Regions from separate parts of the Homo sapiens genome. Here region 2 is linked to region 1. Evidence: fine-mapped expression QTL. Tissue or cell type: whole blood. Region 1 holds a variant in brackets; the other region holds the start of a gene. All regions are shown on one strand. Distances are from middle to middle.

What was found. PIP is the estimated chance that this variant, and not a neighbour inherited with it, causes the effect.
Region 2: ALCAM starts here. The variant in region 1 is fine-mapped to the expression of ALCAM in whole blood (INTERVAL, PIP 0.99).

Annotation. Positions count from the first base shown.
Region 1 is chr3:105,506,282-105,509,127 of GRCh38, reverse strand. The region is part of intron 1 of ALCAM (activated leukocyte cell adhesion molecule); the gene reads right to left. Among named protein-coding and RNA genes, the nearest start is that of ALCAM, 140 kb to the right of the region's middle. The variant A/G (reference allele first, on the strand shown) is at 1,459.
Region 2 is chr3:105,365,681-105,368,353 of GRCh38, reverse strand. ALCAM (activated leukocyte cell adhesion molecule) reads right to left here and starts at 1,445. Exons shown (of 16, transcript NM_001627.4): 1 at 873-1,445. The coding sequence starts at 945. RefSeq lists silencers at 951-1,070, 1,401-1,500.

The DNA of each region.
Region 1 (2,846 bases):
GTCTATTTATGGATGAAAGGATAAATAAATTGTCTATATAGATACAAACACAATAAAATATTACTCAGCCTCAACAAAGGAGACCCTGCCATTTGTGACAACACAGAGGAACCTGGAGAACATTATGCTAATTGAAATAAGCCAAAGAAAGACAAATGCTACATAATCATACTTATATGTGGAATCTAGAAAAGGCAAATACACAGAAACAGAGAGTGGATGGTGATTACCAGGGGTGGGAAGATGTCAGAAGTGGGGAGATGTTGGTCAAAGGCTACAAAGTTACAACTGTATAGGACACAACTAGAAATGTAAAGTACAGCATGATGACTGTGGTTAATAATAGTGTACTGTATAGTAGAAATTTTCTAAGAGAGTGGATTTCAGGTACTCTCATCACACACAAAAAATGATAACTATGTGAGGAGAGTGATATGTTGATTTGCTTAACTGTAGTCATCATTTCACAAGGCATATGTATATCAAAACCTCATGTTGTATAGATTAAATATATACAATAAAAGATTAAATAGACCTAGAAATACATTAAAGCAATTGGTAATAATACTGAATGTTTTTATGGTGTTTTATAGTTTGCAACATTCTTTTATATACATTGTACATTTTTGCATTTGGGCTTCACAAAAGTCCTGTATGATAAGCAAAGAAACCTGTATGATGAACAAATATTATTATCCTTCATTTTACCAATAGGAAACTGTTCTCCCTGCAAAGTCAAGAGAATAAGCCAATATCACGAAGCCAGTATGTGATGGAGATAGAGCTCAAAATGAATTCTCAGCTCAAGTCCAATTCTCATCACTATTAGATATACAAAAAATGATTCCATGTCCTTATTTCATTTTATATTGTGGATAATTCAAGAATATTGTTTTGGAAAGTATTAAAATGCTTTTCATATTTAGACAAATATTTTAAAAAACATATAGGTTAGAAGGACTAGAAAGAAAATGAACTAACACATTTTATCACTTCTTTCTCAATGGGATGCTATGTAGCAATTTGGCACTTGCTCCCAGGAAATACAAGTCCTGTCCGTGGCAGCTGTTCTAATTTTCAAAATAAAATAGAAAATCATGAATATTCAAGAAGATAGGCATCTTTCAGATCAGGAACCAGAAGTCTAATGAGGCTTTTTAATGTAGGTGGGGCACTCAGGTTACAGGCAGAGGAGCCCTATATGCATTTCTAACACCAAAAACGGCAGGGGTAGCACAGTAGACCTCCAATAAAAACGTACTGAATGACTAAAATGGCAAGGTTGAGATTAAAGTCTTTCTAACTTAAAGACCTGTGTCTTTCCTCTCTGTCAAAAACACTTTTCACAATTAACGACTTTTCAAATGAGTTGCAAGTTTATGTCCACACAAAAACCTGAACAAGAATGTTTATACAAGCTTTACTTATAACTTCTAAAACTTGGACAAGATGTCCTTC[A/G]ACAGATGAATGAAAAAATTGTGGTAATCCAGACAATGAAATATTATTTAGCAATAAAAAGAAATGAGCCAGCAAGCCATGAAAAAAACACGAAGGGACCTGAAATGCATACTGCGAAGTAAAAGAAGCCAGTCTGAAAAGGCTAAATACTGTATGATTCCAACTATATGCCATTCTGGAAAAGGCAAAACTATGGAGATAGTAAAGAGACCAGTGGTTGCCAGGGTCTCAAGGGAGGGAGGAAAGAATGAATAGACGGAGAACAGGACATTTTTAGGGCAGTGAAATTATTCTGATATGATAATGAATAAACATTATTAAGTGTTTGTCGAAACCCATAAAATGTACAACACAACAGGAAAATCTAATGTAAGCTAGGGACTATAGTCAATAATAATGTATCAACATCGGCTCACCAATTGCAACAAATGTACCACACTAATGCAAAGATGTTAATAATAGGGGAAACTAGGGGCAAGGGGGTGGGGAGGCAGGGAATTGCGGGCCTATATAGGAGCTCTTTACTTTCCACTCAAATTTTTCCATAAACTAAGAACAGATAAAAATAGTCTATTAATTAAAAACAAGTGATACACACAATTTCTTCAGCCTATGCAATATATTCTACATTTAGACAGTCTCATCTAAATTCCACTGGTATAGGGAGAGGGAAGGACACAAACATCTTCAAGGGCAAAGCTTTGGCATCCATTAGCAGAGGTGATTCCAGTCTAGGCAGCTGAATCCCCAGGCAGATTTCAGCAGGTGCTGACTTTCCAACAGCACCAAAACCTCTGATGAACAAGAGTGTCTTGAGTAGAGGCTTAGCAATTGCTGTTTTATGATTATGTTTTTCACATATTCCCAATCCCACTGAGGTGCTAATACATTTGGTTCATCTTTCCATTTTAAAAGAGACAATGGCTTTGATAATTTGTTCATGGTTACTGCTTAGGGAGATAATGACACTCAAAATTCCCCTAACTGAATATTATAATATTACGTCTTTGGCTCTGCTATTTTTAACAGCTTTTAAAGACAATAGTGTCATTTGGGTTTAAAAAAAAGTTCACTGTTCCTACTCATTAAAGGAATACTAGGTTATAAAGACGAGCTGTAAGAGTCCTAGCAGGGCTTCAGATTATATCATGTATTTAGTTTATGAATCTCATTTTGTTATGAATCTATAACTGAAACAACTCCCAATGCTTCCCCCAGGAAGTAATTAATTGGAAACCAAACAAACAAACCACATGGAAAAGACTGAAATACTTTGTATTACTGTCTGAAAATCCAATGGTAATTTTCAAGTTCATTCCCACCTGAGTCCTACAAAAATATGCTATAAGTGTGTGTTCTTCAGCTACAATTCTACCTCTCTGTGTATT
Region 2 (2,673 bases), 140 kb after region 1:
GCCTGAGGATACCAGGGCCAGGGGACGTCCCCGAGGGTGTGGAAAGGGATTTCCCGAGAGATATTTTAGTTGTTGGGAATTTTGCCTTTTCTCTCTCTCTCTCTCTCTCTCTCTCTCTCTCTCTCTCTCTTCCAAGACTCAGTACAGAACTGAGAACTGAGGCTCTATGAGCAGGTCCTGGAAATTCACAAACCTCTCACTGAGGTGTCTCCCAGGCCTACCTACTAATTCCTGTTCTGGCTGTGTTATCTGCCTGCGGTCACCCTTTCACTCACCACCCGCCCAGACAATGGACGGGGACCGCAGGGGGTAACGTTGAAACCACGATTTTAAGCTTTAGCAGGTTTCGCAAGGGGGGCGGGGGGAGGTGATTAAAGTCCTCTCCTTCTCTACCCCTCCCATCCCTTCCTCGGCTCACCAAGGGGAAGTTACTAGGGGATTTATCACGAAAAAGTGCCGGCAGTTATTTCATCCGAGAACTAAGCGAAAGAAAAACTGCTCGGGGCGCAGTGACGTGGACTTGGATACCCAGAGACAGGAGGAACTGTCAGAGGGCAAGAGTCCGCCGCCTAGCTGGGAGCCGCAGGGACAAGGGGAGAGCGTCAGGCGAATCCTGCCCACCCCGGAGCACCAAGTTCCTGGAGATTCACCCAGTTTCCCCAGCTTGATGCCCAAACTTGAGCTAACCAGCCAAGCCCAAACGTGCGGCACAGGTGACCGAGCCCGGGGACAGCTCTGTGCCAGGACAGCGGTCCCCTTACCTCCACCACGCGCCTGGGCGCACTGCCTCGGGGGTGCGAGGCTGGGACGGGGACCTAGGAAACTGCTCCAGGCCCACGTCTGTCTGGGGCTGCTCCCAGGCCCTTGCTCACCTGGCCTGAAGACGGTGGCGGAGATCAAGAGGCAGAAGAGCAGACGGCAGGAACTGGCCCCCTTGGATTCCATATTCCTCCTCCTTCTTGGTGGGCCACTGACGGAGTCCACGCCGCAGGAGGGGGCGTCGTCCCGGGCCCCGCGGTGCCCGCGCGCTGGCGGGTCCCGACGCAGGGGCAGCGTCTTCTCCCAGACACACCGTCCCCTGGGCTGTGGCGCTGCACCTTCGGTTCTCTGCCGCACGCAACTTTCCACCACGCAATGCCCCCAACTCCTCCTCCCTCCCGGTCAACACCAGCCCACGGGCCCTTCGGCTGCTCCTCCGGGGACAACGACCCTCTGTTTCCAGGAGACACTTGAGTAATTCGGAAAGGTGTAAGCGGTTCTTTTCGCTGGTATCTTCTTTTATTTTCCTTGTATTGGAATGATAATAATAATGGCAGTGGCAATGTGCATGAAACGCCAGGTGCTAAGAAGGACTCGCAGGAGGCGGCGACGGGGGGGCGGCGGGTCTCCTCAGGTGGCAGCGGTGGTAGCAGCGGCAGCGGCGGCAGCGGTCTCCGGGCTGCTCTGAGTAGAGGGACTGGAAGGCGTGTGTAAGCTGCCTCTTTCCTCCTCTCCCCGCCTCCTCCCTCCCTCCCGTCTCCTCCCCACTTCCCCGGACGCAGCGCAAAGCAGGTGGTTGAAGCGCGGATCCGCAGCCTAGAGGCGCTGCAGGACTGAGTCCGAGCCCTGAGCCCAGCTCCGGGATCAGGGAGAACCGCGTGCCCCGGTCCTGGAGCCCGGATGAGCGGTGCTTCACCGCGGCTCCGCCCCCAGGGCCAGGTCCGCCAATAAGAAGCAAGCACAGGAGCCGCGCGCGCCAGGGAGAGCCCTGGGACTAACACTTTCTGTGATGTTGCAGCGCCCCAGTGATAAGGCCTCTGGCTTCCAACTGCCCACCCACCCTCGCTGAGGTTTAAAAATCGACTGCCCTCTCCCTCCACCCATACGCCCATCCCACTGACTCATTCCTCAGAGATTTTTCTCCGCCGTGCTGCTGCAGCCTTCTGTCCTGTAAAGAGAATAGTGGGGCAGGGCGGTGGCGGTGGGGAGCGAACCTTGGGTCCAAGAGCGGGAGTGAAGGGAAAAGGAAAGGAAAGGGCAGGAGGAAGTGGCAAAGGTGGAAACTTGCTTCTTGGGAGTTAACAGGAATAGCTACTTGTTGGCAGGGGCAACCCCTGTACTGGACTGATTCCTCCTGTACTTTTCGAATCTCTCTCCTCCCCCTGCTCACCCCCACCACTCCCCTCACACCCGGCTGGCATAGACTTGGTTTTAAAGGAAGACTACGTGAGTCGACTGCCCGGTACCAACAGAAGATATTTGCTTTTCCCGGGGGAAATTAAATCCGGAATTTCTAAACCGTACTTCGTCATACGGATTTTCCCAATGTCTACAAAAGCCCTCTAGAGAGCGTGTCACTTTTTTACTTTGAGTTAAGCGGTGATTTTAAGTTATAGACAGAAAATCCTCAAATTATTTCAGATTAAAAGCCAAGTCCGTCTTGGTCCGTTCCCGAAAGCCAGGCACTCCAGCAGATGGACAGGCTTCTTAGGCAATTTCTAAAGATTGAACCACCTCCCAGGAGGAACATCGGGAAGCTGTGTTGCTTTCAAATCAGGCAGAGAGCATGAAGGAAGATTTTCCTCTAGAACACCGGGGTGGAGCTGTCGGAGCCCTAAGTGGCTCTAAATCAGGGATGCAGGATCACAACTCTCATCACCAAAGAATAATAAAATCTTGGTCCCTGAAGCACTT